7 linked regions of the Homo sapiens genome follow. The protein of the gene in region 2 interacts with the protein of the main gene of each other region in a biochemical or structural test. Each region holds a gene or a part of one and is shown on either strand. Other genes may lie near its edges.

Region 1 (4,054 bases), on a different chromosome or scaffold from region 2:
ATAATACCTACATTAGCCTACTGTTCCGCAAAATCATCTGACAACACAGTCCACTATAGAGTATTGGTTGTTCACTCTCGTGATTGTGTGGCTGACTGGGAGCTGTGACTCGCTGCCACTGCCTAGCATCACCAGTGTATCATAGCACATATTGCTAGCTCAGACAAAAATCAAAATTCAAAGTATGGTTTTTACCAAATTTGTATTGCTTTTGCACCATCTTAAAGTAAAAAACTTGTATATCAAATCCTCTCTGAATAAATATACAGACTATTTATTTACCTTCATGCTAGATTGTTAGGGAGAACCCATCAAAATTTGCCTCCTGCCAAATTCTGCTGTACTCCTTTTAGCACAAAGAAGTAATTTTTATCTCACAATTACCTTAAATATCAAAGCAAGATGATTGGAGTGTTTTTCTGCATTCCATGGTGGTTTTGCACAAGCCATTTCTATAATAGCACAGCCAACACTCCATACATCACAGCTCCTTCCATACTGTTGACCTCTTAGTACCTAAAATAAATCAGAGTTAATTTGGAAATAGGACTCATTTGAAAAAGAGAAGGCCATTTTGTAGTTATAGATTCTACTTCCTTACTTTAGGGAGAAAACTGGTACAAACAGGAATTCTGTGGACTACCTAATATCTAATTTATTTCATTAATGAGCTTAATTTTCCAGGTAGCACAAAAATATTTTGGAGAATTGTGAGATTCTGAAGCAGAGTCCCATCACAGAATTTTGCTCTTAGCAAACTATGTGGCAAGAGGACAACAGATCATTACTACATATGAACATGAAGAATTATGAACACGACAGAAGAAGCTGAGTCAGAAGAACAATGCTTAAACTCCTTCCACTACAGACAGGAGCTGCCTCTGTATGCTCATCTCCTTTTAGAATAGAGAGAGAATATTTTTAAAAATTTCTTATGTGCACTTTGAGTTTATTACAAAACAACTGCTATAAATTACCCCAGAATTCTTTATTAGTAACAGCCGTTAAGTAAATCTATTAAAACCTGTTTTTTGAATATTGCCAAGGCAAAGAAAGGTCGAGAATAAGGGTCTGAAAGATATTATTAAAACCGTATTTTAAGGGCCACGGACTTCTAGTTGGTAAGTACATACTGGATACCACTGCAAGATAATTTAGTATAATGCTGTTACACAGAATTCCAAAATATTTTCTGTCATCACACTCAAAGATGCTTCTCACCTCAGGTGCCATAAATGCAATTGTCCCCAGTAATTGTCCCTGAAACTCTCCTGCACCAGTTCCTTTTGATGCCAACCTGGCTGCAGCTCCAAAATCTGCAATTCTTAGTCTCTGACCAGTGCTGTCAATTAGCAAATTGGCACCTGTCAACAAACACAGCAAATGACCTTGTATGTTAAAAACAAAAATAAGGACAGATAAAAGCCCAGTACAATACTAATGAACTAGGACAATGACAAAAGAAAGAAGTGAACTACATGTCAGAGGTGCAAACAGTTATTCTCTTTTCCTTTCACTTCATTCTTGCTAAAGGCACACAGCTCTCTCTAGCGTACGCTAAATTCATAATTAGAGCTTAATTTAAAAAGTTATAAAATTACTTCAACACATTATGTCAAATACTAGCTAAAAAGACTAATGACAGAAAACCAAATTTGCTCTTGAGAAAAATAAACTGAGGCCAGGTACGGTGGCTGACGCCTGTAATCTCAGCACTGTGGGAGGCTGAGGCAAGCGGGTCGCTTGAGCCCAGGAGTTCAAGACCAGCCTGGGGGCAACATGGCAAAACCCCATCTCTACAAAAAATATAAAAAATTAGCCAGGCATGGTGGTGCACACCTGTTGTCCTAGCTACTTGGGAGGCTGAGGTGGGAGGATCACTTGAGCCCAGGAAATGAGTTACAGTGTGCCAAGTTTGCAACACTACACTCCAGCCTGAGTGACAGAGAACCTGTCTCCAAAAAAAAGAAAAGGATAAGGAAAATAATGGGACCTACAAAGGATTTGAAGGAATTTTTCTTAAAAGAAGTTGATGATATCCCAATATCCCAATTATTCAAAATAAAACCAGGAAAAGGAACTTTCTGGGAGTCAGCGTATCATGAGGCCAAGACAGGGAATCTGGAGACCTGTGTTGTATACTTTCTGCCATTAACTAGCAATAAAACTGTAGAAAAGGCACAGCCTCTCTTGTATTCAATGTACTTTTCTATTAAACGAGGAAGGCAGATTAAATGATCCCTAAGGCTCATTTCAGTTCTAATATTCTGAATTACTCAGAGAAAAAAATCCCACTGTTAGAAACTATCAACAAAGGTCCATTTTTTTGTTCTTCTTTGAGACAGAGTCTCACTCTGTCACCCAGGCTAGAGTGCAGTGGTGTGATCTCAGCTCACTTCAACCTCTGCCTTCCGGGTTCAAGCAATTCTCCTGTCTCAGCCTCCCAAATAGCCAGGATTACAGGCATGCGCCACCTTACCCTGTTAATTTTTGTATTTTTAGTAGAGACAGGGTTTCACCATGTTGGCCTGGCTGGTCTCGAGCTCCTGACCTCAAGTGATCCACCTGCCTTCACCTCCCAAAGTACTGGGATTACAGGTGTGAGCCACTGTGCCTGGCCCCAAATTTTAAAATTAATTTTTTTATTGTCACTAGATAATAATTAGAAGAATTCTCACCTTTGACATCTCTGTGAATGATTTGGTTTTCATGGAGATACGAAAGGCCACGGAGTAACTGTTCAGTGTAGTTAATAACTACTGATTCTTTGAAGGCTCCATATTTACTCAGCAAATGAGCCACCGATCCCCCTATAAGACAATAGAAATAATTATCATAAACTTAAGACAGAATTAAAAGTATTTATTACACTTTGGTTTCTAAAGTTTTCACTGCATGAACTCACATTCACATCTGAAACAGAAGAAAAACATTTCAAAACTAACATATTCCTGTATCATCTCAAAAACCTACTAATTAGGAGACATTTTCACAGAACCCACAGGGAAACCAGTTTATTGGAGAGTCAAGATTTCAGAAAGCTGTAAAAGTTAACAATTTCGGATTAAACTATTTCTGAAATGTACAATTCAATTCTCTGTCTTCTCAAAATACACAAAACAACTTTATTAATGACTAAAGTAAACAATGTTAACATATTATGTAGTAAAAGGTGGAAAGAATGGGAGGAGGAACAGAAAACCCAGAGTTAGGCGTCATATTCTACCATTTACTAGCTCTGACCTGGAACATGTCTCAAATTTAGCCGCTTTTAAAAGTGTTTATAGTAGTCAACCTATCTACTGTAGTGTAAATCTTTATTAAGACCAACCAACAGATAACATACTTAAGAACTGACTGGTAAAGAGAAATGCACTCTTAAATACACACACAAATCTAAGAAGTTAAACCAAACAATCTGTTCATCACATCAGGTCATTAATTTTATTGTATACATTGTATAATACAAAATAAAACTCAGTCTTCATTTATTTCAGCAGATGACAAGGTTCAACTTTATGCTTCAGTGCTAGTTTACTTGTAGTAAGTTTTCAAGTTATATGTTAATTTTGTTTGTATATTGTTATGTTAAAACACTTCCTCATCTGTCCAATTTATCATGGCTACCTGGAAATATACATATCTTATACATATCAAGTATTAAAAACAACAATGCTACACAATCATTTAAAAACACACTGGAAAAATTTAAAAGGTAGAGGTAGTCAATATTTCATTTATAGTAAATGAAATACAAAACGAAGTATTTGTGGTTCATACTAATATATTGGGGTGATTTGTTTTTAGAAACCCAAACTATTTGATAGAAATAAATTTTAATTAAACTGGTTTTTCCTAAATTGCAGAAAGTTAAATCCACGTACTACTATTTTGTAATTTAAAACATTAACATACCTGCCATCCATTCAATGAAGAGATTGTAATTGCTCTTCTCACACGTGGCTCCCAACATCCTAATGATGTTTGGATGATTCAGATGGCTCATCATTCTTATCTCTTCTCTTAGTGCTTCTACTACTTCTTCTTGCTCAGA
Region 2 (4,054 bases):
CTTACCTGATTTGCTACTACAGCATCCTGTGGATCATCTGGCTCTGCAGCTGCCAATAGTGCTTGCAATGACAATAATACCGTGCGGAGAGTCATTGCAGCTGCCCTAAAATGCAAAACATGAAAATATCCCAATTAAGAGGGCTCTGCAGGCAAAAGCAAAGTATTTTCTTAATAAAAATTAAAAAATTGTAGAGCTAAAAGTTACTTAGATCTTTATCTTAATTATATAGTTAAGTCATAGACATTTATAATTATGTATCTGCCTATCATATATTTTCTTCCTTACTTTACAATTTGCCTATTTCTTTTTTCTTTTTTTCCCCTGAGACGGAGTCTGGCTCTGTCGCCCAGGCTGGAGTGCAGTGGTATAGTCTCGGTTCACTGCAAGCTCCGCCTCCCGGGTTCACGCCATTCTCCTGCCTCAGCCTTCAGAGTAGCTGAGACTACAGGGGCCCGCCTTAACGCCCAGCTAATTTTTTGTATTTTTTTTTTTAGTAGAGACGGGGTTTCACAGTGTTAGCCAGGATGGTCTCGATCTCCTGACCTCGTAATCCGCCCGCCTTGGCCTCCCAATGTGCTGGGATTACAGGCATGAAAAACCACCTGCGCCCGGCCTTTTTTCTTTTTTTTAATGACAGTGTCTTGCTCTGCCGCTCAGGCTGGAGTGGGCAGTGGCACTATCTTGTCTCACTGCAACCTCCGCCTCCTGGGCTCAAGCGATTCTCCTGCCTCAGCCTCACGAGTAGCTGGGACTACAGGCACACACCACCACACCCAGCATTTTTTTTGTTTTTCCTTTTTTCGTAAAGACGGGGTTTTGCCATGTTGCCTAGGCTGGTATCGAACTTCTGAGCTCAGGTGATCCATCCACCTTGGCCTCCCAAAGGTTAGGGTTACAGGTGTGAGCTACTACACTCGGCCAGCTTTTCTATTTCTTAAGACAACTCGAATTCTGAACTGTCCTTGTTTTTCTTGTTGCCAAGATCCTTCTTGTTAGTTTAGTTTAGTTTAGTTTTGAGGCGGAGTCTCACTCTGTCGCCCAGGCTGGAGTGCAGTGGCGCGATCTCGGCTCCCTGCAAGCTCCGCCTCCCGGGTTCACGCTATTCTCCTGCCTCAGCCTCCCGAGTAGCTGGGACAACAGGCGCCCGCCACCACGCCCGGCTAATTTTTTGTATTTTTAGTAGAGACGGGGTTTCACTGTGTTAGCCAGGATGGTCTCGATCTCCTGACCTCGTGATCCGCCCGCCTCGGCCTCCCAAAGTGCTGGGATTACAGGCGTGAGCCACCGCGCCCAGCCACCTTCTTGTTAGTTTTATCCACTCACTTATTTTTCTATCCATTTCTCTAAACAAAGTTAAAGTGATAAATCATTAGTACTAATAGCATGTGAGGCTTTCTTTCAATGGCACTCTAAAAACAAGATACTATGAAACAAATATATTTTCTTTTTTCTTTTCTTTTATTTTCTTGAGATGGAGTCTCACTCTGCCGCCGAGGCTGGAGTGCAGTGGCGCGATCTCGGCTCACCGGAACCTCCACCTCCCTGGTTCAAGCAATTCTCCTGCCTCAGCCTCACAAGTAGCTGGGACTACAGGCACATGCCACCATGCCCGGCTAATTTTTTGTAGTTTTAGTAGAACAGGGTTTCACCGTGAGACACAGGATGGTCTTGATCTCCTGACCTTGTGATCCGCCCGCCTTGGCCTCCCAAAATGCTGGGATTACAGGCTTGAGCCACCGCGCCCGGCCATATTTTCAAGAAAATATGAAATCATTCCATAACATTCTGAAACAGGACAAGTTTTTTGGATTAAACTACATCACTTAATTTATGATTCTAAATGTATTTATAAGGAAAATATCTTTATAAAGCTAATATTTGTCTAAAAAATAGTATCTACCTGTCTAGCAATAATTCTTGGCATTTCTGTTAAAAAAAGTTGTCTCACTGGCTGGGCGCGGTGGCTCACACCTGTAATCCCAACACTTTGGGAGGCCAGGGCGGGCAATCATCTGAGGTCAGGAGTTCAAGACCAGCCTGGCCAACATGGTGAAACCTCATCTCTACAAAAAATGCAAAAATTAGCTGGGCGTGGTGGCATGTGCCTGTAATCCCAGCTGCTCAGGTGGCTGAGGAAGGAGAATCGCTTGAGCTCGGGAGGCGGAGGTTGCCGTGAGCCAAAATCATGCCATTGCACTCTAGCCTGGGCGACAGAGCGAGACTCCATCTCAAAAAAAAAAAAAAGTTGCTTTATCAATTAATAGAGGTATGTATAAATATGTGGACATATTAAAAATGTTACATGTAAAGAGAATGCCCATTTTTACCATGTAAATTAGATCATTCTTCTTTTTTTCTTTTTTTGAGATAGGGTCTCACGCTGCCTAGGCTAAAGTGCAGTGGTACAATCAAGGCTCACTGTAGCCTTGACCTCTTTGGCTCAGGTGATTCTCATACCTCAGCCTCCTGAGTAGCTGGGACTACAGGTGCACACCACCACGCCCAGCTAATTAAAAACAATTTTTTTTTTTTTTTTTTGGTAGAGACAGGGTTTCACCATGTTACCCAGGCTGGTCTTGAACTCCTGAGCTCAAGCAGTCCTCCCACCTCAGCCCCCGAAAGTGATGGGATTATAGGTGTGAGCCACGACAACTAGCCAATTACTCTAAACCAGCCTTTTTCAACTGGGTTCCTGATTTGAACCACAAAATAGAAAAAATTAGTGACTGTTTTCTCAATTTTCCCAAGTTTGGTACATAAATAGTACTTCCCTAGATGCCTACGATAAAAGTTAATTTAGGCTGGGTGCAGTGGCTGACGCCTGTAATCCCAGCATTTAGGAAGGCCGAGGCAGGCAGATCACTTGAGGCCAGGAGTTTGAGACCAGCCTGGGCAACATGGCGAAACACTGTCTGCCAAAAATACAAAAATTAGCCAGATGTGGTGGCACATGCTTGTAATCCCAGTTACTTGAGGGGCTGAGGCAGGAATCGCTCGAACCTGGGAGGCGAAGGTTATAGTGAGTCCAGATGGCGCCACCGCACTCCAGCCTGAGGGAGACAGCCAGACTGTCTCCTACACCTCCACCCCTAGCCAAAAAGTTAAGTTATTGCCAACAACCAACAATGGATGTCTTAAAGCAATGATCTCAGTGTTGTTCATCCAACCAGCAGCATCAGCATCCCTTGGGAAGTTTTCTCTATCCCAGAGCTACTGAATCAGAAACTCCAGGGTTTGAGTCCTAGCCGACGCCGTCGCCGCGCGCGCGAGGCCTGGAACACACCGCACGAGCCGCTCCCGCCCCTACCCCTTTACGCCCACGTGGAGCCGGCCCCGCCAGCGCGAGCGCGCCCTATACACCCTCCCGCCCTGCGCCTACATGCTGCCCTGGCTCTGCCCGTGTGTGGGGGGCGCTTCCGGCCCCGCGGGGGTGGGGAAAATAGGGGATTAAAAAAAAACAGCGCGCGGAACCGGGCCAGGGTTGCCCACCCCCGCCACAATGGCCTCTGGGGTGAAGTCCTGCGCTTCCAGCTGCCCGGCCACTAGGCCGCTACGCTACGGAACATGAACAAGCTCCGGGCAGAGGAGTGGTTCTGCGACGTGACCATTGTGGCCGACAGCCTCAAGTTTCGAGGCCACAAGGTCATCTTAGCCGCCTGCTCACCGTTCCTGCGGGACCAGTTCCTGCTTAACCCCAGCTCGGAGCTGCAGGTCTCCCTGATGCACAGTGCACGCATCGTGGCCGACCTGCTTCTCTCCTGCTACACGGGCACCCTGGAATTCGCTGTTAGGGACATCGTCAACTATCTTACAGCCACCTCCTACCTGCAGATGGAGCACGTGGTGGAGAAATGCCAGAATGCCCTCAGCCAGTTCACTGAGCCCAAAATAGGCCTCAAAGAGGATGGGGTCCGTGAGGCTAGCCTTGTGAGCAGCGTCAGCGCCAACAAGTCCCTCCTCCCTCCAGCCAGGACCCCAAAGCCAGCCCCGAAGCCCCCACCCCCCACCTCCTCTATCCCCTCCACTCCTGCGGCCAGTGAAGCTGGAGTTC
Region 3 (4,054 bases), on a different chromosome or scaffold from region 2:
GTGTGCTTCAGGACATAGCAACAGAACTTTCCACTTGCTGAGCTTTCAAGATGCTGTCACTGGACTGGTCTTGTATCTGGAATAATGTTCTCTCACAATCACCCAATTTTTTCCAACCATGTCAGTTAATGCTAGAGGCATGGCATAGAATCTGAGCCTTTATTTCAGTCCTGTTGCCTGCAGTATGAAATTTCAGAAAGGAAATCGAGATGATGTTGAATGGGACAACTTTTGGAGTTTGCTTCATAAGAACTTTCTGGAAAGGTTCCTAAGTGAGCTCTTGAGGACAGGATGAGAAGTTGATGTTATCTTGGCTTCCACGGTGCCACTCCCAGTAGGTGCTGTGACCAGAATACGACTCTTAAAAAGAGGAACGTACCCGCAAATGTGAAGTGTATAAAAACAGGGCTTTACAAATCCTGCTCTCTTCATCTTTGTCTGGCATCTGGAACACCATGCATGCTTTCTGAACTGTAACAATCCATTGTTCATATTTCTGTGTTCCAAATTCCCTATTTTGAATTTGAGATAAGTTTTCTGTTAAAAAAAAAAAAAAAAGTTTTTCACTGTCTCATATGGTCAGTCATTTAGGGTTATAAACAGGCCTCACCCTCTAATTTTCTTTTTCTTTTTTTTTTTCCTCGAGGCAGAGTCTCGCTCTGATGCCCAGGCTGTAGTACAATGGCACGATCTTGGCTCACCGCAACCTCCACCTCCCGGATTCAAGCGATTCTCCTGCCTCAGCCTGCTAAGTAGCTGAGACTACAGGCGTGTGCCATCACGCCTGGCTAATTTTTGTATTTTTAGTAGAGACAGGGTTTCACCATGTTGTCAAGCTGGTTTCAAACTCCTGACCTCAGGTGATCCGCCTGCCTCGGTCTCCCAAAGTGCTGGGATTACAGGCGTGAGCCACTGCACCTGGCCTAATTTTCTTTCTTACTCTCTGCAAACAGGATATTCCTCCTGAAATAGTCTTAAGTCATCTAGTTAAAACTATTTAACTGGATTCAGACTGGTGAAAAGGTGGAAGCAGGGTACCTGAGGTGGGAGGAGTAAGAAAATAGAAACTCATGTGACTCCATCACCATCTCTCCATCCTTCTGCTCCTTCCCCCATTGAGATAACACCACTGTGCTGCTGGATAATATGACAACCTCCAAACTGTTCTCCCTACCTCTTGCCTTGTTCCCTCCCTTGAGTTTTAAGCAGTGCATCTGTGTGTTTGTTTGTGTGTGTGTGTGTGTGTGTGTGTGTGTTTGATTGTTTCTTGAGTACTGTGTACCAAGAATCAAAGTACCTTACATTCATAATTTCATTTAATTTTCACAACCCATGAGATACATATTACATTTCATATATTGGGAAACTGAAGTTCAGAAAAGCCAAGTAATAAGTAATTTACCCATAGTCACACAGCAAGTACGTGGAGAAAGGGCAGGAATTCAAACCCACATGTGTCAGATGCCCAAGCTCTACTGGCTCTATGAGCTGACAACCAAAGCAGCCCAGAAATAAAACAGTAGACATGAAAAACCCAACTTTGCCTTTAAAAATGAAGAAGTAAAAATAACAGGTCTCAAGAGCTTCATCAGAGGAGGATATATAAAAGCAGGAGATTGGCCGGCCGCAGTGGCTCATGCCTGTAATCCCAGCACTTTGGGAGCCCCAGGCGGGTGGATCACGAGGTCAAGAGATTGAGATCACCCTGGCCAACAGGGTGAAACCCCGTTTCTACTAAAAATACAAAAATTAGCTGGGGGTGGTGGCACGCACCTGAAGTCCCAGCTACTTAGGAGACTGAGGCAGGAGAATCGCTTGAACCCAGGAGACGGAGGTTGCAGTGAACCGAGATCACGTCACTGTACTCCAGCCTGGCGACAGAGTGAGACTCTTAAAAAAAAAAAAAATCAAGGAGGAGATTTAGGACTCAGTTCACCCTATGTTCTGCTTTGCTGTGAACTTGGGCCTCCTGTTCTCCAGAGCAGCATTCTCAGGGCCAAGCATAGAATCGGCCCTCAAAAGACACTTATCACACATGCATCTGTCTGTGTGCATCTCCTAGGATAAGCCTCAGTTGCTTGGTTCAAAGCTGGGGCATCTGCTGTGGTCCAGGCTCTGTGTAGGGTGCTGGGGATAAGATGAGGAGACTATGGCTGTGTTCTCAAGCAGCTGAGTCTGTGAGTTACTCTGGTATCAGTTCGCCAGGGCTCCTCATGAAGAGCACAGTACAACAAAAGTCACAAGCAAGAGCTGTATTTCTGGGTTAAATTCTTCCCCTCACTCATTCATTTTCAATAATAGGAACAAAGGAGGCTACCCAAACAAGTAGTATTGACATGCTTCTTTCCAAGTTGCAGCTACAGCGAGGTGGCCAGCAGTAAAGAAGATGAGCCAACAGGTACTGATTGAACCTGGGTAGGTGTAAAAATAGCCTAAGCAGTTTAGAGATGAGCAGCTAACTGGATTCGGACTGGCAAAAAGGTGGAGGCAGGGTACGGGAGGTGGGAGGAGTAAGAAAATAGAAACTCACGTGACTCCATCACCGTCTCTCCATCCTTCTGCTACTTCCCCAATTCAAACCACATCAGTGTGCTGCTGGATAATATGACAATCTCCAAACTGGTCTCCCTTCCTCTTGCCTTGTTCCCTCTAACCCATACTCTACCCAGTGGTTAGAGGGAGTTTGCAAAATTGCAGATGAGAAATCATCCCACCCCACTGCTTAAAAGCCTTTAGTGGTCCTGCAGCCAAAATCCTGCCCCAGCTCACACACTCCTCCCCATGCTCTGGCCTCTGCTTGCTTTTGCTTCTCATTTCTGGCCACTCTCCTTTCAGCATTCTACAGGACTAATGGAAGTCCCTATACTCTTTCTAGTCTCCTGGCCTTTGCATATGCTATTCCCTGTGCCTGAAACACACCTTATCACCCCCACCACACCAGCTGCTTTAGTATTAGTATTACTTCTCTAATTTTGGTCTTACCATCAGACTAGAAATGCCCTGAGGCCAGGGGCTGTATCTTAGGGTTCATGCTGTATTCCCATCACCTAGCCCATTCCTTAGCACTAAATGAATGAACATATGCATGAACACATTCGGGAAACTGCTAAATCAAAAGGATTCAGGTAGGGAAGTAGTAGAATATAACATTGGAAAGATAAGTAGAACCTGGGTGTTCAGGCAGGGCTCAGACTGCAGGTTAGAGGCGTGAAGATTATCCTGTAGGCAAAGGGTTTTTAAGCAGGACAGGGACATGATAAAATGTATTCATGAAGACTAACTAGTTCATGAGAGGTTGAATGGAAGAGAGAGCAGAGGTAGGCAAAATCAGCTAGAAGGCTGTTAGAACAATTATAATAGAAATTAAACTGTGAAAGAAAAGGGGAGAGAAAAGCAAAATAAGTGTGAGAGGAGACACTCCATGAGGTGTCTTACAGACGTCACATTTAACATCCCTAAAACTCAAAACTCAAAACCTTGTACCTGCCAAGGCTGCTTCTAGTCCTGGTACCAGGACCACCCACTGGCATTCATAGAGGTGCCTAAGCCAGATGCCTGGGGGGAAATCAGCCCCTCCTGCCCCTTTCTCATCCCCACCCAAATCCGTTTAGCCATTCAATCATAACACTCACAGTTGGAAGCATCTCACATGTGTCTCCTTCCTTCTCCAATCCATCTCTACTGCCTCTCTTTGGTCCTTCTCATTCACTGGTATCTTTATTACGTCACTAATCAGTTTTAATCTTCACTTTTTTCCCCATTGTTTTTAGGATAAAATTCAAATCCAGGCCCTTCACTGTCTTCCCCTGGCCCATCTCTAGTCGCACTCCTTTAATGCTGGGAAATGTGCTGGGTGATTGTCCCTAGATATAAATCTGAGCCAGTAGAGGAATGGTGGTTTCATTCAGGTGAACAGGAAAGTCAGGAGGGAAAGCTGATTTAGAAGGTAGAGAAAGCAATGAACTGACTTAAGTATGGTTATTTTTCAGGTGCATGTGTCTGGATGAACTTACTTTGGATTTAAAAGGAAAAAAAGGAAGAAAGAAAGAATAGA
Region 4 (4,054 bases), on a different chromosome or scaffold from region 2:
AGGTTCCCTGGCTGGTAGCTGGTCTGGCACACAGGGCAGCTTCTTTCCCCTTCTTGACCAATCACTGATTCCCTGCCATTTGGTGTGATGCAGGCTTGGCAGAAGCTGTGGCCACAGTCTATGCTCAGGGGTTCTGTTAGGAGCTCCAGGCAGATAGGGCAGGTCACCTCTTCTCGTATGTCCACCAGTACTGGTGAAGTCATTGTAGCTACTCTCCTGGCTCCTGCCTGCCCAACCCTGATTTCTAAGATGTTTCCTGCCTGTAGAATCCTAGGTAGATGAACAAACAAAAAAAGGATCAGGGTAAGAAAGGAGGGAGAATAAGGGAATACTGACTGCCCAGTCCTGGATAAAGAGGTCAGACACCTGGGGTAACAAGGGCTTCTCATTCTCATATCCAATACGTTCTTTATCCCGGCTCATACAAGGCACCAATTTCTCCCCATATTAAAGCAGTGATAATTTCCTCTTGCTCCTATTGAATAGAGACAAACTGAGGCCCTGGAAAGGAGGGGCCTGTGTGAGTCACTGTCTGTGTGATCTTTTCTTTTTTTTCTTTTTTGAGATGGAGACTCACTCTGTCACCCAGGCTGGAATGCAGTGGTACAATCTCAGCTCACTGCAATCTCCGCCTCCCAGGTTCAAGCAATTCTCCTGCCTCAGCCTCCTGAGTAGCTGGGATTACAGGCACGTGCCACAACACCTGGCTAGTTTTTGTATTTTTAGTAGAGATGGAGTTTCACCATGTTAGCCAGGGTGGTCTTGAACTCCTGACCTTAAGTGATGCTCCTGCCTTGGCCTCTCACAGTGCTGGAATTACAGGCATGAGCCACCGCACCTGGAGACTGTGTGACCTTTTCTCACCCAAAACATATCCTCAATGTTAAAAGCACCTAAAACACACTGCTGCCTCAGGATTTTTGCATTTGTCGTTCGTGATGTAAAGATGACCCTTTACTCTGCTATCTGCATGACTTACTAGCTTCCTACCTATTCCCTTATCAGAAGGGTCTGCTCTGACTAGTCTATTTAGAGCACAGCCACCATACAATCACTCTCCACATATTCACCTCATTAGGGGGTCTTGCTCTGTCGCCCAGGCTGGAGTGCAGTGGCGTGATCTCGACTCACTGCAAGCTCCGCCTCCTGGGTTCAAGCCATTCTCCTGCCTCAGCCTCCCGAGTAGCTGGGATTACAGGTGCCTGCCACTATGTCCGGCTAATTTTTTTTGTATTTTTTAGTAGAGATGAGGTTTCACTGTGTTAGCCAGGATGGTCTCGATCTCCTGACCTCATGATCCGCCCGCCTTGGCCTCCCAAAGGGTTGGGACTACAGGCATGAGCCACTGCACCCGGTCTATTTTACTTCTTACACCACTTAATACAGATCTTTACTTGTTTGAATCCTCGCAGTGAAATGTAAGCTCCATGAGATCTGAGACTTTTTGTTCATGGTTGTATCTTCGGCAGCTAGCATAGAGCCTGACATATAGGTCCTCAACTTTGGATGAATGAGGGGGTCAGAACCCCCTCATCCTCTACAGTGATCATCTGTGACCTTTCCATGAGCTCTTTCACCTCTCTGCCATCACCTTTGCATCACTCTCTGGTATCTGATCTCTAAGACTGTGAAAACACTTCCACTTCTTAACGGCCCTGCTCCACATAGAGCCCTCTCACCACATGCTCGCCTTCTCAGAAAAAAACCAAAGAAACAGCAATGGCCACAATAAGGGGTGGTAATTTTTTTGTTGTTGTTGAAACTGAGTCTTGCTCTATCGCCCAGGCTGGAGGGCAGTGGCACTATCTCGGCTCACTGCAACCTCTGCCTCCCGGGTTCAAGCGATTCTCGTGCCTCAGCCTCCTGAGTAGCTGGGATTACAGGTGAGCGCCACCATGCCCAGCTAATTTTTGTATTTTTAGTAGAGACAGGGTTTTACCATGTTGGCCAGGCTGATCTCGAACTCCTGACCTCAAGTGATCTGCCTGCCTTGGCCTCCCAAAGTGCTGGGATTACAAGCGTGAGCCACTGCGCCCAGCCTGGGGAGGTAATATTTTTACAACTCATGATTCTGTAACCAGTTGTGATTTAGAAATCACATTCTCTTGCTTTCTTTATCCCTCATGGACAACTCTGCATAAATAAGAGTATTCTCCATTCTTTAATAAGAAGAGACATTAAGTGACTTTACACAATCATGCACCTTGTAAGTTGTAGAATTGGCATAACCTAACCTTTCCAGGGTGCTAGTTCAAAGCTTCGTCCTCAAACTCATAACTTTGACCAAAGACAGTCAGTGGTAAAGGCTGTGAAAGTCAGGCATGGACCAAGTGCTTTCGAAGTATGGAAATGAGAGAGATCCTATTTGATGATGGGATTTTGCCAGGGCCTGTCTTAAACTTCAGCAGGATCCTAAGGGGGTCCATATGTAAGGAGAGGTGGCCGGTAAGGCAGTTGAGACCTTATATCTTCATTGAGAAATATGACCTTTATTGTCTATTTTTCTTGGAAGAGTTGTTGATAAATTACGTTACCATTGTTTAAAATCACACTGAGAATACTCTTTAGAAAATTTTTAAAACTGTTTCCAGCACTGAGTTATTTTCACTGGGAGCCATTTGTTCTGCTTGTCTACCTGGAGTTGTGTTTGGGCCACCAAAGAAGAGCCAGCTAACACTGCCTATGTGAAGCTCTGGCCCTGGTTCCAGGCGTGACCTCGCTGTTCTGAACAGGCCACAGTGCGTAGGGAGCAGGCAGAATTCTCTAACTTGTCTTTGGCTGGTTTCCCAGCAAAAGTAAATGTACACTGATGTAAAAAACAGTCCGTGTGGGCCTCAACACAAGGCCCTGTAAATTGTACCAATTTACCCCCATCTTGAGGACCTGGTGGATTTAAAAAGTATATCAAACTGCCTCCCAATAACAACACTCCCCTTAGAAGAAAGGGCCTGAGAAAGTGTCTCAGATAAGGGTAAGAAAAAGTCATGGGATGTAAGCATAAGCCTCCTAGCGGCCCTGCTGGGGGATCTAGCGAGCCGAAAACAGGTTCTTGGCGCTGCCATCTAGTGTTCTGTGGTGCTTCTGCAAGTACTAGCCTGGCTCTTCAGCTTTGCCATGCTTAGCAGCAGCGATGCTCACAGCAAATATCTACAGAAAGCCCATTAGGTATTCAGCAAGAATTTAATTATTTTGTACATAATAACTCAATAATTCCACATAACAACATTATGAATGTCCCTTAAATCTCATCTCATAGTTGTATAAACTGGTATTTAGTAGATCTTTCAAGTGGCGGGGCCGGTGTTGAATGCAGATACGCAGGCTGCAGAGCTGGAGCTCTTATTACTCCCTTATATTCCTCATCTCCATAAAGGGTGCAAAATATAATTAACAAATTAATGAACTCTGTGCATCTAACTGGTAGTACTAATTGGTGTTACAGACGTATTTACCTATCATCTGAGAGTCTGTTTAACCAAATTAATCACACCTGTGGGAACTGCACTATTATTTCCTTTGTTAATATCTCCTACCATACCCACATCATCTCACTTAGCACACTGCACTATAAGGCTCTATTGCCTTTGATAATAGAGGCAATAGAGGCTCTAGAGGCAATAGAGGCTCTATTTATCTTCCAGGTGCCCCAGACCTTAGCACTGCAGCTAACACAGGAAATGATCAATTAACTTTATAATGGATTGAAAATTATAGCTTACTGCTGAGCTTATAGTTGGCCTTGATGTTGGCACTAGAGTATAGAAATAAATGTGCTATCTTATCAAAGTGTTACTGTTAAAAAATAATTGTGTTGGCCGGGCGCGGTGGCCCAAGCCTGTAATCCCAGCACTTTGGGAGGCTGAGGCAGGCGGATCACAAGGTCAGGAGATCGAGACCATCCTGGCTAACACGGTGAAACCCTGTCTCTACTAAAAATACAAAAATTTAGCTGGGTGTAGTGGCGGATGCCTGTAGTCCCAGCTACTCGGGAGGCTGAGGCAGGAGAATGGCGTGAACCCGGAAGGTGGAGCTTGCAGTGAGTCGAGATCGTGCC
Region 5 (4,200 bases), on a different chromosome or scaffold from region 2:
ATTATCCCCTATAAAATTTTGCCATATTACTGAGGGTAGGGGAAAGTGTTGTTCACAGATATGCCCTCCAAAGTGCCCAAAATAACACCTTCGAAAGGTTTTAAATTGTGTTTGTTCATGAAAAACCTCCTGTGATGCTATCAGACCGATATTATTCTAAACTGTGCTCTAAAAAGATAAGTTTTGGGAATTACAATATGTTAATATCTAGCAGGACTTGCACTGGCAGAAGGATCAGTCTTTGTTTTGTCTTGCTTGGCCTTGGCAGGCAGTGTTCGTGAAAAAGTTGAATCTGAATTCAATAGAACTAGGGGAGGGCGCAAGGAGGATCCAGTTGACAAAGGCACCACCACATAGGGTATTCACTCAACAATCTTAATCTGTCCCACCACTGGGGAAGGCTTTTGAGATTGTCACTTCTACTCAGCTGCTAAAGCAGAAACTACATATACACTGAGTGATGAGACAAACAGTGAGCACATGGAGGGTCTGAGAAACCAAAGCAGGCCAAAGTAAACACGTGGAGACCCCAGAGGAAAGATGGAAGAAAAACAGCACTAGGATCAACTGAGAAATGAAAATATCATCAGCGGAGAGTAAGAAGTGATAAACCTGCCAGAGGTAAGACCTCTACTGAAAATGCTGGAAGAAAAGGAAATTTCCTAAAAAGTAATCATCATCACAGAAAAATCAACAGCTTTTATGTAATGTTTTCTGAAGAGATATTAACTTTAGAATCTGAACATGGCTTTTATCAAAATAAAGTCCTGCGGGGGGAAATCCATTAAACAATACCAGTGTTGTTATATAAATAAAATAAGGGTTCCTTCTCAAAGGCTTATTTATATCTTAGACTTAAAAAATATCAAAGACTACATTATAATCTTAACATGGCAAAAACACTCTCCATATCACTTTGTTTACCTGCTAACTCAAATGCAAAAACAGATTTGAAATTAAGCAAGAGATGTGAGTTGAGTTCTTTCGCTTCTCCCTTCTTTAGGACTGTAAAGTTCAGCTTTACACAGCAGTAGATAAACAGGAACTTCACCCTTCACTGCCTTCTACTAAACTCTCCATCAGAAGGACCAGGAGACTTAATCTACAGCCCACAGAGTCCATAAATCCCACCGCTTCCTGATGAAGCACAGTGGGACTAATTATAACAAATGAGTTGCATATCATACTATCAACTTGGAATATTAATCTCTCAGTCATTTACAGCCCACTTTCAACCCCAAATGGGAACATGCAAGGAGACAAGATCCAAGAAGCCATATTAAATCCAAGTGAGGCTTTAAATCCTGGAGAAACTTTTCTGATCACTGCGGGATTTACATAAGTATTCAAGGCCAAGATGAAAGCAAAATTCTCTAGCCAAAATACCGTTGATCTGATCAGTCTGAAATTATCTGTTCTAATGAACGAAACCAGCATGTGTGCCTTATCAATGCTGCTTATCTCGCAGGGGCAGACAACCTGGAAACTGTGTTAGAATAGATCCTCAAATAAGAAACATTCAGTTAAAATGATGGGCTGCCTCTTGACACTGTGAATGTTTTGCTGCGTTCAGACATCAAAGGAAAACTGTCATGAACATCAGGTAAAGGCAGCAGAAAAGGAAGCACAGTTTGGTGTTTGTTTCATTACACAGCTCCCAAAGGGGACAATCGAATACTAAGCGGCAAAAAAGTTGTGGGAGACGGCCTCTCTCCAACCGGAATGTCCAAAGACACCTGAGTGCCGAAAATTCCCCCATACTCAACGTCTGAATTCTCCCCTCTGCCCTCTCCTCTTCGTCGGAAGAAAATCCGCTAACAATCCCATGCCTGACCAAGTGGGAAAAGCTTTCAACTTCACTCTACTTCGTCCAACCCTCGGGATAACGCACTCCCAGATCCCGACCTCCCCTTGAACCTGCCCTCTGAGATCTTCTAGTTTCTCCCGAGGGTCCCTCAGAAAACCCAGCCCGTTCCTCCCCACTGCCCCTTAACCCCTTCCCCTGCCCCAGGCCCCGTCCGCGCCCCAGCGCAGACCATCACCCGCCGCCTCCCCGACCCCCTTCCCGGAGCCCTCAACGCTGGCCTGCCCCTCGGGGCCTCCTCCTCGCAACCCCACGCGATGTTCCTCCCGCCCGCGGCCCCCTCCCCCTCCCCGCGCCTCACCACTCTCCCTCAGCAGCGCTCCCGCGAGCAAGGCCGCGCCCCCCAGGCGCTCGCCCTCGGGGGTCCCTGGCGGAGGGGCCCCTAGGCCCACCACGCCCCCGCGGATAAAGGGTGACGCAGCGGACCCCGCCCCTGCCCCGCGGGCCCGGCCGCCTCGCTCACCCACACGAAGAGGCTGTCTGAGAGCAGGTACTGGGCCACATCGCGGGCCCGGGGTCCCCCGGCGCTCGGCCGGGCGGGCGCCGGCGGCTCAGGCTGCAGCGAGGCCGTTAGCTGGTCCGGCTCGCCGGGGCCGGCCTCGGGCTGGCTGAGCGCGCGGTAGGCGCTGATGATGGTGCCCAGCAGGGCCAGGCCGCTGAGGCCCGTGTAGGTGCGGAGGCTGGGCCAGGGGAAGCGCTCGAGGAAGAGCAGCGGCATGGCGGCAGCGGCGACCTCTGGCCCCCAGGCTTCCCTGCGCTGCGGCCGGGCCTCTGCGGCGGCCTCGCGAACGGCGCCCACGGGCTCTGGCGTCGCTGCCGCTGCCGCTGCCGCCGCCGCCGCCGCGCCGGGCCGGGCCGGGCCGCTCCTGGCTGCTGGCGCCGCTCCGCCCCGCGCTGCTCCCGCTGCTGCCCCTGCCGGCGCGGAAGAGCCTGGGCGGGCTCGGGACAGGCCGCCGCCCCCAGCGGGACGCTGGCGGGACGGGCGCAGGGGCGCGGCCTTCGTCCCCCGCCCCCAGCGGTCGCGCCGCCGCCTAGCGGGCGTAGCCCCGGGCCTCAGGCCGGGGGGCGGGCACCCAGCATCATCCGCCGTCCGCACCACGGCTTGGCTGGGCCCGCAGACACAGAGGGCACCTGCTCCGGCCGCGGCGCAGGGGTCACTCGGGCTCGCAGGCGCTGGCAGGCGGGCAGGGCCTCAGGGCGCGGGGCACCCTGGCCACCAGGCCGTCGGCCACTTGCCCCCCCCCCACCCCATTAACCCTCTGAAGAGGTTACCCCCAGCACTCCTAGGGGCCGCGCAGCTTCCCTGGTGCCCGAAACCCCAGAAGAAAGAATATTAACAGTCTTTCAAGTTTCTGCTGTTTGCTAGTAGCCTCCAGCAGAAACTAAAAAATGAACCTGATTTAGCGGGAAATAAAAATGTGTTCCCTCATACCCCAGAAGTGAGAATGTCAAATGGTGCAGCTGTCTTGGAAAATAACCTGTCCTTTCCTTAAAGTCAAACAAGAGTGACCATTTGACCCAGTAATTCCACTCCTCTAAGAAAAGTGGAAACATACCTCCACACAAAACTTGTACACAAATGTTGATTACATTCTAACAATCAAAAGATGGGAACAACGCTAATGTCCGTCAAGCGATGAGTGGATAAATGTGATACATCCATAAAATGTACTATTCGGCCATAAAAATGAACTACTGATACATGCTACAATAGGAACGAACCTTAAACACGTGCTAAGTCAAAGAAGACAGCCACAAAGGTCCACGTGTTGTGTGATTCCATTGATATGAAATGTCCACAATAGGCAAGTACATATACAGACACAGAAAGTTGATTAATGATTGCTTAGGGATGGGAGGAAGAGGGGAGTAGGGGGTGATAAAGGGTGCAGGTTTCTTTTAAGAGACAGGGTCTGTGGCCCAGGCTAGAGTACAGTGGCATGCTCACTGCATCCTCCATCTCCTGGACTCAAGAAATCTTCCTGCTTCAGTCTCTCCAGTAGCTGGGATTACAGGCGTATGCCACCACACCTGGCTAATTTTTAATTTTTGGTAGAGACAGCGTCTTGCTATGTTGTCCAGACCAGTCTGTGGCTCCTGAGCTCAAGTGATCCTCCCACCTTGCCTTCACAAAGTGCAGGGATTACAGGCGTGAGTCACTGGCTGGGATAGGTTTGTTTTCAAAGTAATGAAAATGTAAAATTGAGGTGATGATTGCCCAACTCTGAATTGAAAAATCATTGTACACTTTAAATAGTTCTATCTCAATATGCGAATTGTATCTCAATAAGCTGTTACCAAAGGAAAAAAATGTTACCTTGGGAGTTTTATTCCTT
Region 6 (4,054 bases), on a different chromosome or scaffold from region 2:
GACCTCAAGTGATCCTCTTGCCTTGGCCTCCCAAAGTGCTAGGATTACAGGTGTGAGCCACTGCGCCCACAATATATTTCTTATAGTTTAAATTTTTTAGAGATGGGGTCTTGCTTTGTTGCTCAGGCTGGTCTCAAACTCCTGGTCTCAAGCAGTCCTCCCACCTGAGCCTCCTGAGTAGTGGGGACTACAGGTGAGTGCCACAGCACCTGGCTTTGTAATTTTAACAGCTTTATTGGTATCTTGTTACTTGAGTAGTTATGCTCTAAGTATATACTTTAAAATAATTTTCTTCTTTCCTAAAATCTGTGCTATTTAATTATATAATAAAGGTTGAGGCCGGGCGCAGTGGCTCACGCCTGTCATCCCAGCACTTTGGGAGGCCGAGGCAGGCGGATCACAAGGTCAGGAGATCGAGACCATCCTGGCTAACACAGTGAAACCCTGTCTCTACTAAAAATACAAAAAAATTAGCCGGGTGTGGCGGCAGGCGCCTGTAATCCCAGCTGTTCGGGAGGCTGAGGCAGGAGAATGGCATGAACCCGGGAGGTGGAGCTTGCAGTGAGCTGAGATGGTGCCACTGCACTCCAGCCCGGGCGACAGAGTGAGACTCCGTTTCAAAAAAAAAAAAAAAAAGATTTACTTAATTTTAAATCTTGAGGACTAGTTTACAACCTTTGATTTTTTTTTTTTTTGAAGTTTTTTTGGGGAATGATCTCGATTATCGACTCGGAAAATAGATAGACTAAGTGCCAGATTTTAAATTATTTAATTTATACTGAAATTGGGAGCATGATGAGTGGGAATATTGTTTTTCCTCTCCCAGTGTTGTTGATTAGCCTTTTGTTGGGAGAATGCGTAATGGAAATTCGTCTAGCATCTGCTAGTTTAAAGTTGAGAGAAATGTAAAGAGACCTTTTTTGGTTATAGGGTAATGCCCTGTTCTGAAGATACGGGCCTTTTCAGGAACATGAAAATTAGTTTTAGTAATTCTTGATTTGTACCTTTTTCCTTCCTACTTCTGCTTTGTTTTGAAATAAGTTCTGTCTAGCACTTTGATCCATTCCAGCCCAAAGTGAGATGAGAATAATTCGTTTTATGTCTGAAGAAACATGCTTGGTTGTACAGAGGAAGGAACAGTAAAATTGGAGATAAGAGACCTGAATATCTCTATTTTATTTTATTTTTAGACAAAATCTCGCTCTGTTGCCCAGACTGGAGTGCAGTGGTGCAGTCTTGGCTCACCGCAACCTCCACCCATTGGGTTCAAGAGATTCTCCTGCCCCAATCTCCCGTGTAGCTGGAACTACAGGCATGCACCACTATACCCGGCTAATTTTTTTGTATTTTTAGTAGAGATGGTGTTGCACCATGTTGGTCAGGCTGGTCTCCAACTCCTGACCCCAAATGATCTGCCCCGCCTCGGCCTCCCAAAGTGCTAGGATTACAGGTGTGAGCCACTGCACCCGGCCATTCTTTGTACCTGTTATCACAGTTTGTAATCATAACATTTTTGGAATCAGATAATTTGACCAATGTCAGTTTCACTGGTTAGGCTGCAAGCTTTATAAAGAAAGCATCCAAGATCTCCTGTTACTTACTTAAGCCTACTAATATATCGTTTCACATATGAGAGTTTTTCCTGCCAGCTAAATTCTGACAAATGGAATTGCTGGGTCAAAGGGTAGATACAAACAAATATTTCTGATACATCACACAAGAATAATTGCAGCTCTAGTGAAGTGTCTTGTTCATGGAAAGTGCTCAAGGTTTTGATTTGAGAACTGTCAATTATATCTTTTGGTTAAGGGATTTAATACTTTTTAAATTAAGGTAAATTGGCATTCATTGCTTTAGCAAATATTAGGACTGCCTAATAGGTGCCTAGCACTGTTAGGTGCCAGGGATATTGTAAAGAGCAAATAGATAGGATCCCTGCCCTCTTGGAGCTGGGTGTTAGTGATTGAGATATATATATATATATATATAAAATCTTTGGTTGTACAGGGGAAGGAACAGTAAAATTGGACATAAGAGACCTGAATACCTCTATTTTATTATTTTATATATATATTTGAGACAGGGTCTTTCTCTGTTGCTCTGTTGCCCAGGCTAGAGTGCAGTGGCATGATCATGGCTCACTGCAGCCTTGACCTCTCTGGGCTCAAGTAATCCCCCTTTAGCCTTCCCAGTAGCTGGGACTACAGGCATGTGCCACCACCACACCCAACTAACTTTTTTTTTTTTTTTTTTTTTTTTGAGACGGAGTTTTGCTCTTGTTGGCCAGGCTGGAGTGCAATGGCGCGATCTCGGCTCACTGCAACCTCCGTCTCCCGGGTTTAAGCGATTTTCCTGCCTCAGCCTCCCAAGTAGCTGGGATTAAAGGCATGCGCCACCAGGCCTGGCTAATTTTGTATTTTTAATAGAGACGGGGGTTTCACCATGTTGGTCAGGCTGGTCTCGAACTCCCAACCTCAGGTGATCCACCCACCTCGGCCTACCAAAGTGTTGGGATTACAGGCGTGAGCCCCCGCGCCCGGCCTGTATTTTTTGTATAGACTGGGTTTCACCATGTTGGCCGGGCTGGTCTCGAATGCCTGAGCTCAAGCGATCTGCTCGCCTTGGCCTCCCAGAGTGCTGGGATCACAGGCCTGAGCCACTGCGCCTGGCCTGAGATATATTTAAATTAAAATAAATGCTCAGAAAAATGGTGTAATTACAAATGTATAGGTTTCGAGAGAGTATAAGAGAGGGATCAGATCTAGTGGGTGAGTATCGATGACCCTTTCTTTAGGAAGTGATATTGTTGCTGATATCTAAGAGAGATATAGGTATTAATTTGTGGAGGGCTGTGCTCGTGCATAGAACATTCTGGGGAGAAGAAACATTCTGGACAAAGGTCCCGAGGTAGGAGGGAACATGCAGGGCTTTGTATTTGAATGACAGAAACATCTTCTGGGCTTCAACCTCTTATAGGTTTCTTTTTTTTTTTTTTTTCAAAGACAGAGTCTGGCTCTGTTGTCCAGGCTGGAGTGCAGTGGCACACGCAGTCTTGGCTCACTGTAACCTCCGCCTCCTAGGTTCAAGCCATTCTTCTACCTCAGTCTTCTGAGTAGCTGGGATTACAGGCGTGCACCACCACTCCTGGCTAATTTTTGTGTATATATATATATTTTTAAATTAGAGTCAGGGTTTCACCATGTTGGCCAGATTGGTCTTGAACTCCTGACCTCAAGTGATTTGCCTGCCTCACTCTTACAGGTTTATTAACATTTTATTTTTTTAAGCCTTAGTTTCCTCATCTGTAAAATGAAGGAACTTATTAAGAAAAATTTATTTTTTTTTAAGAATTCAAGATCATGAATGGATAGTTTCTGGGATCCAGCCTAGCACCTAGCACATATTATGTACGCAATAAGTGTTAACTGCTATTTTCATAAATGTCATGTTGCTTTCCCAAAAATTGAGCTAATTTACAAAATGCCATTAGTACTATAAAAGTATATTTGTAATCCATCATCTTTGCCAATTTTGTTTTTTTAAGCATTTTTATGCTATTTTAATACAGTTCATAGTGGTGTCTAGAAGTCACATTAAAATGTATTTCTTTAGTTGCTAGCAAGGCTGCATGCATTTTTCCATATTACATTTTTGCTTGTTTGAGACAGGGTCTAACTCTGTTGCCCAGGCTGGAGTGCAGGGGCATAATCACGGCTTACTGCAGCCTCAACCTCCTAGGCTTAAGCGATCCTCCCACCTCAGCCTCCCAAGTAGCTGGGACTACAGGCGTGCACCACCATGCCTGGCTGATTTTTTTTTTTTTTTCTTCAGTAGAGAGGAGGTCTCGCTGTGTTACCCAGAATGGCCTCAAACTCCTGGACTCAAGTGATGCTCTGGCCAGGGCTTCCCAAAGTGCTGGTATTACAGGTGTGAGCCACCACACCTGACCTTCTTTTAGTTTCTTTTTTTTTTTTTTTTTTTTTTTTGAGACGGAGTCTTGTTCTGTCACCCAGGCTGGAGTGCAGTGGCGCGATGTCGGCTCACTGCAAGCTCC
Region 7 (4,054 bases), on a different chromosome or scaffold from region 2:
AGGTACCCTATTAATGAAATTTAAGGTCCCTGTAAAGATAAAACTGACTATGAAATTACTGTCTTTAAAAGAAGTCAGTTGTAGGCCGGGCACAGTGGCTTAAGCCTGTAATCCCAAGACTTTGGGAGGCTGAGGCGGGCAGATCACCTGAGGTCGGAGTTCAAGACCAGCCTGACCAACATGGAGAAACCCTGTCTCCAGTAAAAATACAAAATTAGCCGGGTGTGGTGGTGCATGCCTGTAATCACAGCTACTCGGGAGGCTGAGGCAGGAGGATCGCTTGAACCCGGGAGGTGGAGGTTGCAGTGAGCCAAGATCATGCCATTGCACTCTAGCCTGGGCAACAAGAGCAAAACTCTGTCTCCAAAAAAATAAAAAAAATAAAAAATAAAAAAAAGTCAGTTGTATTGTAACTCCCTTCCTACAGACACCTCCCCATAGAATAAACCCAGAATAAGGATGACATTTTTGGTAAAACTATTCACTATATCAATATTACACATTTTCCCTGATATCTGTAGATCTGGACAAAACTAGGTAAAAATCTAGTTCAAGTATCGTGTAACTTACAGTTATGCACCACCTACCAACGTTTCAATTATTTAACAATGGACCGCATATGACAGTAGTCTATGATTATTTTTACTGTACCTATGTTTACATATCTATGCTTAGATACGTCTTAGATACACAAATACCATTGTGCTACAGTTGCCTACAGTATTCAGTAGTTATATGCTATACAGGTTTGTTGCCTAGGAGCAATAGGCCATGCAAAGCTTGCCTGTAGCCCGTAACAAATTCATAAACTTTCTTAAAACATTATGAGACTTTTTTGATTTTTTTTTTTTTGGCTCATCAGCTATCATTAGTGTATTCTGTGTGGTGTGGCCCAAGACACTTCTTCCAGTGTGGCCCAAGGAAGCCAAAAGATTAGATACCCTGGTCTATACCATATAGGCTAGTTGTGTAGTACGCTCTAGCATCTAGTTGTGTAAGTACACCGTGAAATTCACACAATGAAACAGCACATTTCTCAGAACATATCCCTGTTGTTAAGCAACACATGACTGTACTTAGTCTTTACTTTTAAAATTTCACTAAATGCAATGTCCTTCATCAGTTTATGTCAAACACTGCATAAAGGGAAATGTACTCTTAAATGTACATTAAAATATACTGAACTTCCCTACTTTATTATTATTTGTTTTTTTTTGAGACGGAGTCTTGCTCTGTCGCCCCAGGCTGGAGTGCAGTGGCATAATATTGGCTCACTGCAACCTCCACCTCCCGGGTTCAGGCGATTCTCCTGCCTCAGCCTCTCAAGTAGCTGGGACTACAGGCGTGCGCCACCATGCCTGGCTAATTTTTGCATTTTTAGTAGAGACGGGGTTTCACCATGTTGACCAGGCTGCTCTTGAACTCCTGACCGCAGGTGATCTGCCCGCCTAGGCCTCCCAAAGTACTGGGATTGCAGGTGCGAGCTAACATACCTGGCCGAACTTCCCTACTTTATAAGCTATAAATTAAAATTACTTTAATGACATTACACACACACACACACACATATATATGCATACAATATATACACACACACTAATCTAAGCATAGCACTTAAAACACCATAGTTCACATTCAGTGTTAAATTTCCTTCTCTTGAAACAATTTTAGCCAGAGATTATATTGTACATGTATCTAGGAAGAGAAAATTCTAATTCTGTAGCTGCTAATGCTTCTACCTATCAAAGTCTAAGAATTATACTAACCTTTGTTTATGGGTTTAACTTCATTAACATTTACAGGTGTAACAGTATTTCCTGGAGATTCAAGTCCACAACCATTAGTTGTGTTATCACTTTCACACTTCCCCAAGTCCTCTTCAGGATCACATTCATTTTCTTTAGATTGTCCTTTGACTCCTTGGTTTGTTGTTATTTTTCCCAGACTACAAAATTTAGAAAGAATGCTGGGTTGCTTAGTTGCAGACTTTAACCAATTTATTTTAACTCTTGATTTCTTTTGTGAGGGTCTTGGACTCTCATTTTCAGAAATATACTTGGGAATTATTTTAGGAGGACTCTCTAATGTATCACTTGTAGCTTTTCTTTTTGATCTAGTTTGTCTCTGGTTCTCTTCCAATGACTGGTGTTCCTTGGATAATTTAACTTTTTTCTTCATGTTACCAAATTCAGTGTCACTTTTTCTTTTCCCATTTCCTTTTGGGAGTTTCTCTTTAAAGTCTTCAGAATGCCTCATACTGTCCATCTCTATGCTGTTAATACCATTCATTTCCTCTTTCGGATGAGGTATTTCTTCTACCTTAGTAGGTAATTCTGCCACATTTTTTACTTCTTCTTTTTTTAGGAGTTGGCATGTTTCTTGAATGTTTCCCAAAATACATTGTAATACTTCCTGTGCATCATGCTGTAGATATCCTTCATACATAGGGTTGAGTTCCCTATAAATAAAAATTTCCATTTCATCTATTCTAGTTTTGAAGATACAGTACATAAAGCCTATATAGAAATTAATTCATGTAAGGAAAATCATAAATTATTTCATTTTTTAAATGTCAAGACATTTATTCAGCACTAATTTGGAATTTCTTATCTGTAACTAAAAGTAAGAGTAAATTGTACCCTATTTTCATTATAATACTTTGATCCTCTTCTAAATATATTAATAACTAATACTTAGATAATGCTTACCATACACCAGGTTTTAGTCAAAATGTTTTTTATCTCCTATGTATACATTATCTTCACAATAACCCTATGAGGTACTATTATCACCATTACTGACAGATACAAGCACTAAGGCACAGACAGGTTAAATAACTTGCCCAAGGTCACAGAACTACTTAGGATGAAAAGCCAGTATTCAAACCCGCTCTTGGCCACCACGCTACAATGGCCTTTTTTTTTTTTTTTTTTTTGGAGACAAGGGTCTTGATCTGTTGCCCAGACTGGACTGCAATGGCGCAATCTTGGCTCACTGCAACCGCCGCCTCCCGGGTTCAAGCGATTCTCCTGCCTCAGTCTCCCGAGTAGGTGGGACTACAGGTGCAAACCACCACACCCAGCTAATTTTTGTATTTTTAGTAGGGGCAGGGTTTCACCATGTTGGCCACACTGGTCTTGAACTCCTGACCTCAAATGACCCACCTACCTTCACCTCCCAAAGTGCTGGGATTACAAGTGTGAGCTGTGACCGGCCTACAATACCTCTTAACTAAGGTATAGCAATATATTGCACCTAGTTCTATTTTTAAACTAAATGCTTAAGTGATTGTTTTAAAGACTTGCCCTATAATTGTATTTGAATAAGGCTATTTTATATGTAAAGTTTCATTTTTAAGAAAATACCAAAAAGCAATCTAATCCAGTTAGCCAACAGTTCTCCTCTAATCACATATAAAAATAGAATATTTGGAATTTACAGTTCTTACACATATTTTGAATATAGTCCTATAATTCTTAATGTGAAATCCTTAGGACCACGCATTTAGAAATTCAGACATTTTCAGATTCAATGATTATATGGCATATAAGTAAAATATTTATCACCGACTTGATATGGGAGTACTCTATAACTAAACACATTACTACTTCTATAGAAGCATGTATGAATATTCACGTTAGAGATAAATATGAATGACTATAAAAAGCCTCATATAATATGTTCAGATCTAACGAATTTAGCACCAAATTTATGAAAAAAATTTCCAGTATTCAGAGTCTCTGGGATATAAAGGACTGTGGACCTAGAGTTTCTACTTTCCTTGCCCTTTATTCCTGTTTCTTCGCATGTCATTCTCCTCCAAGGATATAAACAAGTAGCTAAATTGAAACCCTAAAATTATATTATAGGCTATACCTCAGTGTGTTAAGCAGTCGCCTTGGCTGAGTGGCAAGTTCATCAGTATATTTCTCTGGATTTAAGAGAAAACTAGCCTGGAGCTGTTCAACCGAAATGATTAAGGACTGTAAACTGCATATCAATTCATAACTTGCCAAAGAATCTTCTTTGCAATTTCCCTGTCAAGAAAGAAACA

Evidence for each region.
Region 1: of the proteins of UBE2K (region 2) and MAP3K1, one has a biochemical effect on the other in vitro, tested with the Homo sapiens proteins (one large-scale study listed by BioGRID).
Region 3: of the proteins of UBE2K (region 2) and RIGI, one has a biochemical effect on the other in vitro, tested with the Homo sapiens proteins (one study listed by BioGRID).
Region 4: the proteins of UBE2K (region 2) and TRIM6 form a complex in vitro, tested with the Homo sapiens proteins (one study listed by BioGRID).
Region 5: the proteins of UBE2K (region 2) and AMFR form a complex in vitro, tested with the Homo sapiens proteins (one study listed by BioGRID).
Region 6: the proteins of UBE2K (region 2) and RNF138 form a complex in vitro, tested with the Homo sapiens proteins (one study listed by BioGRID).
Region 7: of the proteins of UBE2K (region 2) and USP1, one has a biochemical effect on the other in vitro, tested with the Homo sapiens proteins (one study listed by BioGRID).

What each region holds. Positions count from the first base shown.
Region 1 is NC_000005.10:56,884,688-56,888,741, reverse strand, and holds part of MAP3K1 (mitogen-activated protein kinase kinase kinase 1), read right to left. Parts: coding exon 3,916-4,054; intron 2,811-3,915; coding exon 2,679-2,810; intron 1,365-2,678; coding exon 1,222-1,364; intron 517-1,221; coding exon 385-516; intron 1-384. UniProt on the Homo sapiens protein: Component of a protein kinase signal transduction cascade. Activates the ERK and JNK kinase pathways by phosphorylation of MAP2K1 and MAP2K4. May phosphorylate the MAPK8/JNK1 kinase.
Region 2 is NC_000004.12:39,770,885-39,774,938, reverse strand, and holds part of UBE2K (ubiquitin-conjugating enzyme E2 K), read right to left. Parts: exon of another isoform or gene 3,240-4,054; intron 106-3,239; coding exon 6-105; intron 1-5. UniProt on the Homo sapiens protein: Accepts ubiquitin from the E1 complex and catalyzes its covalent attachment to other proteins. In vitro, in the presence or in the absence of BRCA1-BARD1 E3 ubiquitin-protein ligase complex, catalyzes the synthesis of 'Lys-48'-linked polyubiquitin chains.
Region 3 is NC_000009.12:32,480,961-32,485,014, forward strand, and holds part of RIGI (antiviral innate immune response receptor RIG-I), read right to left. Parts: exon of another isoform or gene 538-4,054; coding exon 380-537; exon of another isoform or gene 1-379.
Region 4 is NC_000011.10:5,599,462-5,603,515, reverse strand, and holds part of TRIM6 (tripartite motif-containing protein 6), read right to left. Parts: intron 271-4,054; coding exon 1-270. Other genes in the region: TRIM6-TRIM34 (tripartite motif-containing 6 and tripartite motif-containing 34), read right to left, coding at 1-270.
Region 5 is NC_000016.10:56,422,746-56,426,945, forward strand, and holds the start of AMFR (E3 ubiquitin-protein ligase AMFR), read right to left. Parts: upstream 2,801-4,200; 5' UTR 2,583-2,800; coding exon 2,328-2,582; intron 2,245-2,327; exon of another isoform or gene 2,166-2,244; intron 1,990-2,165; exon of another isoform or gene 925-1,989; intron 1-924. UniProt on the Homo sapiens protein: E3 ubiquitin-protein ligase that mediates the polyubiquitination of lysine and cysteine residues on target proteins, such as CD3D, CYP3A4, CFTR, INSIG1, SOAT2/ACAT2 and APOB for proteasomal degradation.
Region 6 is NC_000018.10:32,098,234-32,102,287, forward strand, and holds part of RNF138 (E3 ubiquitin-protein ligase RNF138), read left to right. Parts: intron 1-4,054. UniProt on the Homo sapiens protein: E3 ubiquitin-protein ligase involved in DNA damage response by promoting DNA resection and homologous recombination.
Region 7 is NC_000001.11:62,443,142-62,447,195, reverse strand, and holds part of USP1 (ubiquitin carboxyl-terminal hydrolase 1), read right to left. Parts: intron 4,038-4,054; coding exon 3,877-4,037; intron 2,459-3,876; coding exon 1,767-2,458; intron 1-1,766. UniProt on the Homo sapiens protein: Negative regulator of DNA damage repair which specifically deubiquitinates monoubiquitinated FANCD2. Also involved in PCNA-mediated translesion synthesis (TLS) by deubiquitinating monoubiquitinated PCNA.